2 separate regions of the Homo sapiens genome follow, and region 2 is linked to region 1. Evidence: fine-mapped expression QTL. A gene starts in region 1. The other region holds a variant in brackets. All regions are shown on one strand. Distances are from middle to middle. Region 1 holds the start of LINC01923 (long intergenic non-protein coding RNA 1923). Region 2 overlaps LINC01923 (long intergenic non-protein coding RNA 1923).

What was found. PIP is the estimated chance that this variant, and not a neighbour inherited with it, causes the effect. A credible set is the group of variants that fine-mapping cannot tell apart.
Region 2: its variant is the best candidate, but not a certain one, in a credible set for the expression of LINC01923 in cerebral cortex (GTEx, PIP 0.58).

What each region holds. Positions count from the first base shown.
Region 1 is chr2:198,371,866-198,377,254 of GRCh38, reverse strand. LINC01923 (long intergenic non-protein coding RNA 1923) reads left to right here and starts at 2,158. Exons shown (of 3, transcript NR_110267.1): 1 at 2,158-2,372; 2 at 2,638-2,779.
Region 2 is chr2:198,303,389-198,308,777 of GRCh38, reverse strand. All of the region lies in intron 2 of LINC01923 (long intergenic non-protein coding RNA 1923), which reads left to right. Among named protein-coding and RNA genes, the nearest start is that of LINC01923, 69 kb to the left of the region's middle. The variant C/A (reference allele first, on the strand shown) is at 2,799.

The DNA.
Region 1 (5,389 bases):
TACAGAGTCTTGCTCTGTCACCCAGGCTGGAATGCAGTGGCACAATCTTGGCTCACTGCAACCTCTGCCTCCTGGGTTCAAGCAATTCTCCTGCCTTAGCCTCCCGAGTAGCTGGGACTACAGGCGTGCACCACCATACCCAGCTATTTTTTGTATTTTTAGTAGAGACGGGGTTTCACCATGTTAGCCAGGCTGGTCTTGAACTCCTGACCTCAGGCAATCCACCTGCCTCGGCCTCCCAAAGTACTGGGATTACAGGTGTGAGCCACCGCGCCCAGCTGAGGGCTGCTATTTTTAAGAGTGGTCAGAGACACCTACGCAGTACATAGATGACTTTGGGGAAAGATATTATGCAAGTGAGGAAGTGAGTCATGAAGGTATCAGGGAAAGGAGCACTCTAGGAAGAGAAAATAACAAATCCCTTGGAGGCAGGGATTTTCCTGGATTATCAAGCAAGTGCAAAGTGGGACATGTGGCTGGCGTGAAGTGAGCCAGGGAGCAGAGTAAGGGAAGAAGCCAAGAGGCATCTCAGAGGTCAGATCCAGTAGAGCCCTGGTGTCATTAACAGCACTGTGGCCGTCACTCTGTTCCGTAGAGAGCCACTGGTGGGTTTTGAGAAAGGGACTGAAATGAACTGATATTTAACCTCTATGGATTTGATGTCGGTGTATTGGAGTGAGGAGAAATGGACACAGGAAATGATGACAGCGGCTTGGATTACTGTCTTAAAACTGAGGTTTTATCCTGAGAAAATTCCCTTTTCTAAGACAGGAAGGACTGTTAAGAAGTGGCCTGTTTTGTGAGATTAGGATGGAGATCAGTTTGAGAAGCCCGTTGGACATCCAAACAGCAATGTCCAGTGAAAAAGAAGTTAAATACACATGCCAGGAGTTGAGGGAAGTAGTCCTGGCTGGAAAGAAAAAATTGGGATTTTTCAGAATATAGACAGTATGTAAAGCCTGAGAGATGAGATTAACCTAGAAAGCGAGTGTAGAGAGAGACACCTGAGCTTCCCTGGGTTCAAGAAGATGAGATACAGGCTGGGTGTGGTGGCTCACACCTGTAATCCCAATACCTTGGGAGGCCAAGCTGGGAGGATTGCTTGAGTCCAGGAGTTCCAGACCAGCCTAGGCAACACAGCAAGATCCCATCTTCATTTAAAAAAATATATATTTTTTAAGCTTTTTAAAAGAAGATGAGACACAGCTAGCAAAGGAGTGGAATAAGAGCTGCTGGTGAGGGAGGAAGACAACCAGAGCCATGTGAAAGAAATCATTTAAAGAGGAGTGAGTGATCCCCTATGGGGAAAAATAAAATGCTGCTTCTATGTCAATCAAGATGAGGGCTGAGTCACTGTATAGGAGGCAGCAATAAAAAAAATAAAGTAAAAGATGAGGGCTGAGGACTGACCATTAGGTTTAGCATCATGGAGGTCCTTGATTTTAGGAACAGAGCATCAGTGGAGCAGGAAAGGAAAGAAGGAGGGGTGGAAAGCCTAGGACATCAGATACAGACAGCCCTTTGAGAGGTTCTGCTCTAAAATGGACTGAAAAATGGCCAGGTGCGGTGGGGCATGCCTGTAGTCCCAGCTACTCGGGAGACTGAGGTGGGAGGATCCCTTGAGCCCAGGAGTTCAAGACCAACCCAGACAACATAGTGAGAGCCAGTCTCAAAAAAAATAAAATTAAATAAAAAATAAAATGAATTGAGAAATGGAGAGGCTGCAGGAGAAGTGGGGTGAAGAGAGATAGGAGAAATTACAGCAGAGAAAGGGAACGTTTGATGATAAGGAAAAGGACGAAGCAACTGCTGAAGTGGCATCCAGTGTCAGGCTCCAGAGGAGTGAGGGGCTCTCTGATCAAGAGGAGGGGCTGGTCTCAAAGAGGGTGAGTAGAGTACAACCATGGTAACAGCAGGACGCAGAAGCACTGGCACGGAGGCAAGTAAGAGGCTGAATGTGGAAAGTCAACCCCCAACGTGTTGGACCAGTTAATGCTGCTGGTCTCTCTGAGAGGTAACTATGGAAATCTATAATAAGCCAAAGCAGCTGCACCCACAGCTGATGTGAACCTGGAAGATACAGCCATGTGAGAGGACCACGTCATTATTATGGAAGGGGTTCTTAGAATTGCCACCCAAGTAGATTCTGTTGGAGATGGGAGGAGAAAGGGAGGAAAGGGAGTAGAGAAGGCCACACACAATCTTAAATTCAATATTTCACTCCCGTTAAAGATAAGCTGTTTATAAGCTCCAGTGTAGGGCATGTAATTCTATGTAAAAACTCTGTGGTTCCTCTTCCCACATGTAAATCATGATCACTCTACATTCTGCTCTCTGGGAGCCCTCAAGGCAAAGAGACAACAAGACTCGAGGTATAGTAATAAAAGTCTGGGTATTATAAAATCCACCCTGAGCTCCAAGAAAAGAATAGAAAGAAGGAAGCTCTGAAAAGTACTAATTTACCAAAGTTCAATGCAGTTTTGTAAATTTTTATTAACATCCTCGGAAATCCAAATGCCCATCTTGAAACTGAGGGTTTTTTTCCTCAATTATGGCTATATATGCTTTAAAGATAAACTATGAATTCTCTTTAAACTAAGTGCCTTGATAAAATAATGAGTATTAAATACATTTCAGACCACAGAAAGGACTTATCACAAGTCTTTGTGGTAGCTGAGGAGTGCCCCCTACAGACTGATATGCACAATGCAAGCAGATGAAGAGGAAAGAACTGAGCAGCAGTATTTCAGGATTCTCAATAAGGCATCAATGAAAAAAGGTAAGAAACCTTTGCTGAACAAAATGTGACACTAAAGGCTAGGAAATATATGGACACTATGAATTCTTGTTTTTACATATTTGTAAACAGCAAGAAATGAAAAACCTTTGTTTGGACTTTTCTTCTTTTTGACTCTCACCACCGATTGCCCGCAACTGAAGAATGTATTAGTAAAGTCTGTTTTGTTCTTTGGTTACTTCATATCAATATTTGAATACAAATGAAAATAGTAAAATAGTAAAAAAGATATTTTATTCTGCTGTGCAAAAACAACTACCTGGATTCAGAAATTATTTACTTCAGATGTCGGCAACAAAAATAAAACGTAACATATCTATTAAAATGAAGTTAAATGAATTCTAGTTTGAGGTTTTATTCCTTTTTGTAAAGACTCCACAGAGAAGTATTTGCCTTCTATGAATGTTATCGCTTAAAATGTTTATGTTTTTCAAACTAAAAATCACAAAAAGACATGAAAAACATATCCTATGTTTATGAATAGATTTAAAAATATATAAATCTATAAATGTCAAAATATATTACTACACTAAGATTCAATATTACACACTATATAAAATATATTACAATAATATTTGAGAGGCAGAAAGTTATATAGTATATAACCTCATCATAGTTAATAAATTTCATACATAACAATATATTCCAGTTTAATTTTCCATTTGTAAGAGAAAGGAGACAAAATATAATTCAAAACCTTTACATTTTTTATTAAAGATTTTTAGAAACGAATACTGGTGCAATTTAAATGTACCAATATGTTTGATGTCTTTAAGTTAAACTCAGAATTTTATAAATACTTAGCAATGGACAGAATAGTATTTATCCAAATTAACAGCCTTTTACATGATCTTTGAATAAATGTAGATCTTTGGAAAAATGCGTTTAACATCATAAAATGTTCATTTAGACTCAATTTCACATACACTCAGGAGATATACATAAATGTATGTGATTAAATTGATAAATTACACTTCCAAGCATTTTCATAAAGAATGTTTTTCACACTCAGAAAGAGACAATTAGGGTCATGTTTTGATGGCTTCTTTTTCTTATGGAATTTAATAAGATATAATCAAATATTTATATATTGCTTCTTCTAAAATTTTTTAAATTGCATAATAATGAAATTAGAAAATATATTCTTTCCTGTAGGTAATAAAAGCCAATGTACTTACAAAAAACTGCTTGCTATATTAATCTTCCTAAGTGTTCTGGTTATTGACCTAATAATCACAATTGTCTCTTCTTTCCCTCTTCTAATAATATATACATGATGCATTCAGATGTTAAAATGCAGCACTTGTGGAAATGTCTGTTAAAAAATATTAACATATAGGCCCCAAAAATGTATAGTACATTCGAATTAATGAAACTGACTGTTTTTACATGTAATTAACCTCTTGAATGCACTCACTCTCATTATAGAATCCTTGCCAAAATGCAGTATTGCATTTTGGAAGGAATGAAGGGGAAGGGGAGGAGAGGGGAGGGGAGAGGAGAGTAGGGGAGAAGAAAGAAGGAAGAGAGAAAGAGGAAGACAGAGGGAAGGGATTAGGCAGGTCAGCCAACTGATTTAGGTAAATGAATCCACGTTTATAAACATGCACGTTGTAAAATTAACAATTTTCAGAAGAAAGGAAATAATTTACAAGAATAGCATTGATTCAGAAATAAATGTTATTATTCCTAGATAACAAATACAAATAAAAAATCAAATGCCTTAAATATACAATGTTGATTATATGGTCTTATCTTGTGGAAATGTACAAAAGTACAATTAAGATAATTTTGAATAAACTTTTATTCAAATTGAAAACACAATTTTATGTTGCATATACTCCTTTGGTGTTTAGAAGATATCATAAATTCAGTTACTTCCTTATGCCCCAGAAAATGCGGATATTTTTTAGAAAGGCTATTGCTTTCATACTGTTTCTAACATGAAAAACGCTACCTTTTTTGGCTAATACAAAGAAACCACAATTAACAGTGAAACCATAAATACTTTCTGTGTTAACCACAAATGGCCTTTCCCATAGAGAAATGGCTTACATGTGTTCTAAATGTGTTTGGTTTCGTTTTGTATGGAAGGAGCTGTGGGTATGTTTTTATCTAAGAAAAGAATATGGCATGCACATGCACAACTTTCTAAAATGAGAAACACTCATTGAATTTAATCGGAGTTTCGTCTGGGGCGGAAATTCAGAATTAAGCTCCATGGGTGATGATTTTGGATTATCTGGACAGGACTTCAGGGTCTACTTGCCAAACTTTCTTGGACTCTCAGTGCAACATGAGGCAGAAGGGAGCTTCGCCTGTGTCCTATTATTGTATCTGGTGTAACCATGGGCCGATCTCACCAGGCATAGCCTTCACACACTTTCACTTTATCAGTTTCGTTTGAGTCAGTCCCATACTCAACTGTCCACTGCTCGTGACTCTGCTCTGCTTGAGTCTTTTGTGTGTGCCTGTGTGTGTGTAACCGTACCTCATTTCTTCAGTATTACACATCCTGTGAATATCAGGGAGTCTATGGAAATCTACACGTTGATGCTTGAGTATTACACATCCTGTGAATATCAGGAAGTC
Region 2 (5,389 bases), 68 kb after region 1:
GCAAGGGACTGGCAAACTGACAAATAAGGACTATTTCAGAAGTTTCCAAAAGATGCAAGGCAAAATAAATACCTCATAAGTCATCAGCGAGATGGACAACTGTTGAGAACAAACAGAAGCAACTTTACGCTGGAATCAGCAAAAGCTGCTGTGAGGTAGAACAAGAACGTTTGACAGCAAAGTGTGCACCAGCCAGGGACCTTGGACAGATCATCACCAGCAAAACAGGGATAATTCTTACTGTATCCATTGTTAATGGGATAGCACATAAGAAATACTTAAAGAAAAGGGTATGAGTAAAAAGATGCATTTAATGAATTAATGCAGTTTAGATATTTAATATAGGGTTAGAAGCAAATATACAAATAATGCTTTTATTCTTAGAAAACATCTTTATTCTTTCAGACTCTGAGAATTAGTCTAAAGTTGCAGATAAGTACAAAATTACAAACACAAAGCCAGAATTCACCTTTTTGTGGGGGAACATGGGAAGAAGGTAAAGCAAAGTGTCTGTGATTTTGTATCAACCTGGTTAGGCCACAGTGCCCATTTGTTTGGTCAAACATTAGTCTAAATGTAGCTGCAAAGGTTTTTTTTTTTAAATAAACTTTGAATGAAGCAGATTAACCTCCATAATGTGGCCGAGTCTTATTTAATCAGTTGAAGGCCTGAATTCTACAGCAGATTTTGAAAATGCCAATATTCATAACGGCATGAGCCAATTCCTTATAATAAATATTTCTTACACACACTCTCTTTCTCTCCACACACATACACAACACACACACTCACACACACATCCTTTTGGCTTTGTTTCTCTGGAGAACCCTGGCATACGTAATCCATATGTTTTATAAATATTATATATATTTATATTTATATATATATCTTACACATACTCTGTATGCATATATATGGATGCATGTGTGTATTTCTCATAGAACAAGGTCAAAAGTATCCTTGACAAGGGTACTTTTATAAATAGGTTATAGCGTTCTGGCAAAGCGGGAATTAGTTGAGGATTAAGATGTTACAACCTTCTCCAGGCCTGAATGAAACTATGGCCTGAGATTTTCTAATTCCGCAGGAGCTTGCCTCACCCTAACCTCACTGCAAGGTACCAGGTGGGTCATGCACCCCTCATTACACTGAATCTGCCCCTCCTCCCCTCTCTACTGTCACTCTCTAGCCTGTGACCTCCTTTGCCTATGACAGTGTCCTCTCTGGTCAGCCTTATTCCAGTCCTCCCCACACCCTTCTCCCCAGTGCAACCACCACCTTCTCGCCAGAGGAATCAAATCACATCACTCCCTTAAACCTTTGGGTGGCTGTCACTATGCCTCCCCTTTGTCACTGTCATTCTTTTAAAACATAATTACTTGTATTTCCTCAACCACACCCCCATTGTGTACTACTACACGCCTTTACAGAAGTGGCTACCGCTTCTTGGAATGGTCTCCTCTTGTCTTCTCTTCTCCTTCTCATGCAAATCCAGTACAAGCATTGCTGCGTCTGAAAGCCTTCCCAGCCAACCCCTCACAGCAGAATTCACCACTGCCTCTTCCAGGAGGCTGCTTTGCATTGCATCCTGTGATAATAATCAGCCCCTAGTTGATTCATCTTTGCCTACCAAGCACATGGCCCAGTGCCTGGCACACAGTGGGCCCTTGCAGAGTGATTACTTGAGAGAAGTGAATTGAATTCACCAGATGCCTAGGTGCAAGCTGCCATCCTGACTACCTATTAGTGAGAGGGCTGCAGGGGGTGGGGAAGGTGTCTGTTCACATCCCTAGCTGGAGCCAAGGAAAAGATCTTCCATCTTTCCTTGAGGAGTGGTCAGAAAATCTAAAGTTAATGATCTGGTGCCTGCCTGGCTGGGACAAGGGTCACAGGAAGGCTGTGCCTGGGGAGTGTGTAGGGCTGGAATTAGGGGATAAGAAAGAAGACAGGATATCCTGGACTGACAGAGGAAGTGAACTCAAGAAAAACAGAGGCCATCAGGCCTGAGTTTTTGAGAGAAAGATCTGGAGTAACGGAGAACCTGGGAAGTGGTAGCACAAAATAATGGTGATGATAACAGCAGCCATAAGCAAGACTGAAATAGAATGTGTGACAGAAGTTCAGAGGTAGCAGGAAGAGACAGTGAACGAGAAGATACAATTGGAAAACCTTCTGTTGATGGGCGAAGAGCCGGCAAGTGGAGAAGAGGGTGGCGGGTGAAATATTTTTGTTTTTAAATCAATAACTTGTCTTAAAATGACAACTGAACTTGCTATTAATTAATTTTCATACTCATCTTTTTTTGTGTGTTTGTTTTTAGTTTAGTTTGTTTTGTTTTTTGAGATGGAGTCTTGCTCTGTCAACCAGGCTGGAGTGCAGTGGCACAATCTTGGCTCAAGGGATTCTCCTACCTCAGCTTCCTGAGTAGCAGGGACTACAGGCACCCGCCACCATGCCCAGCTAATTTTTTGTATTTTTAGTAGAGACAGTATTTCACCATGTTAGCCAGGATGGTCTCGATCTCCTGACCTTGTGATCCGCTCGCCTCAGCCTCCCAAAGTGCTGGGATTACAAGCGTGAGCCACCACGCCCAGCTTCATATTCATCTTTCATAAAAGCTTCTTTGGGAATGATAAGCCCTCATATGACACAACTTGATCCTCTCTTTGAAGTGTCTATGAATTTTTCATGGCTTCCAACATTAATTATATTGTTTTATCATCACTTCTCTTTTTGGAAACACTCCTAAAAATGTTTTAGAATGTGGGCATGGAAAAAAATTACATTATCTTAAATTA[C/A]TATGAATGAAGAAGGTAAGAACATTCAAGGAAATGGCAAAGAGGGAATTAAATGCAGGTTTTTTCCAGGTAACTCCAGCAAACACTAACAAAGGGATGACTTGAGAAATCAATAATCTGGTTCTTCTTTGCCTATAGAATCAAGTTGGTTCAAAAATGGAGCCAAACGTTTTACATTAAGAACAACTGGCATACTAAAATAATTATTTATAAGTAATAACATGTTAGTCTGAAACTTTAGATACCAGTCCTGACTCTCAGGACTGGGAAAACGCACTTGGCCCAGCTCAGAAGCCACTGAAACACTGTGGGTTTGGCACCTCATGTCAAGCCCAATCCCTTTGCTATTTGAGTTCATTTATTCTTGGCAAAATATAACTTCCTGCCCCTAAGAAGAAAGATTTTTAAAGTCTCATAAAAATGATTCCAAAGTTTACTTGGACTTCAAAAGGCTCTTACAAAACAACATTTTTATTAGTTAAATTTATGGAATATGGTGCATAAGGATTACATTTTCTTTTATCTTAAATAAATAACAATTAGGGCAAAACCAATGGGATGTGGAGTTGGGAGAAGCTTGGCAAAGAAAAAATCCACAGGGGACCACTTTGCCATGAGTTACAGGAAAAATAGAATCTCCAGAGAGGGAGTGTGCTCTCTCTAGGAACTCTAGAACTGGGACGCAGCTCAGTTTTTCTTCAGATCATCAAAGCCCAGCGCTTACTACCAAGGGAGATGTCCTTACACTAAGGTCTCTGTATAATAGCTCACATCAGGTCTGGTCCGATACCAGAAGGCAAAAAGAACCTGATAATGTGTATTGCTGACATCTTACTGGGTGCTCATGTTCTTCAAAAGATGAAAAGACCGAGTTACCTTCTCCAGTAAAGGCTGAGCACCAGCAGGAAGAGCTGAGGTGTGAACAGGAAAGCCCCAGGTCATGAGTCTGCCTATTTTCACAGCCTGGGCAATACCCAGTCTCAGAAAGAAGATCCCAGGAATGTGGCTCACGCCTTCCCAATGCCCACTCTACTTGATTATTAATCTTAGATTTTAAGTGCTGGGTTAGGTTAAAAGTCTTGAAATTTAGCGCACTAGATTTATTTAGTATAATAGATCTTTGTTAACCCAGCATTCATTGTGTGACTTCCTGAAGATGCCAGATTGTTTAGGAAAGCAAAAATCACCATAACATTAAGTGTTTACTAGTAATCTGACAACTTATAAAAATTAGTCCCCACTCCAGGAGTGCTCCTGGCTGGGTCCATCCCCACATAAAGCCAAGGCTTTGTTCATTAATTTTTCCCCAGATAGTCTGCTGTTGGAAATGTTGAACAGTATAGTGCTACATGCTGCAAATTGATATAAGTCTTGCAAAAGATGCAGGCTTTCACGGTGCCAGTGAAAGTGACGTTGGTGGATCTGCTGGAATTGCAGGCAAAGCCATTCCATATCCTGCCCTGGAGGTGTCTAAACAGACAGCTGCAGAGAGGGACTGCCTAGGGCCCCAGGTGTGATCACGGAGAGCCTGTGCCAGCAAGGCTGATGGCTGAGGAGGTGGTGGGGAGGGGAAACTCAGAATTGGTAAGCGAAAGGAAAACACTCAGAATGGGTTGGGAACATCCTGCAGGTACCAGAAAATGAGGATAATGTGAAAAATATAGTGACAATGATTAAAAAATCAAAGGATCTGACTTAAGGGAATTCTCATGGAAAAGTTGTGATAATTCAAATATTAAATAATTATTATTGTTACATTATAATTAAATAAAAATAAAATTAGTGTTAGGTATAAAATAAAAATAGTATTAGGTAATTGGAATGATTTGATCTATGAAAGATTGAGTTCAAAATCAAAGTCAAAGGAGAAAAGCTAAAAGAAATAGTAAAAAAAAGGAAACTTATAATACAAAAGAAGAATGAAAACAGGATTTATGTTTGTCATTATTTCATGAGGTAAGGGATGTATATATGCCTATATGTATACCAATGTACATACATATGCATATATGAATTATATGCACAAATTTTGCTGCTATATTAGTTTATAAATATGTGTGTATATAATATATATGTTCAGGGTAAGTAGAAAAGAAGAATGGACAGAATAATTGGGAGTGAGCTGAACTAACACAGAAATAGAAGGAACTCTATCAAGAACAGGAAGGGCTGATCAATATTCTGGTCTTGTATAATAACCAGCGGACCCACATTTAACCTCTGATGGTCACACAAAATGACCAAGTAGAAAGAAGGCTCAACAATGTGCTGCAAATGACAAAACAGAAAGAGGGTCCAAAGAGGAGGGCTCATAAAGCAGACTGACTTCCTCATCTCCTAGGAGCCAAAACCTTTAGATAACCCACAAATTCTTATAATATACTAATAAGGAACACACACGTCTAATGATGCTAAAAAAAAGTAGCTCAGTGAATCATAATGTTAGGACGATGGCTATGTACTGGACCATGTGAAGCTGGAAGGATACCTTATTTCTGGGGAAGACATCTAGTTTCAAAAAATTAAAGCCTATATCCCCGATGAGGGCTGAAGACATAACAAGAAAGCCCTGATTATTAATAGACACTCAA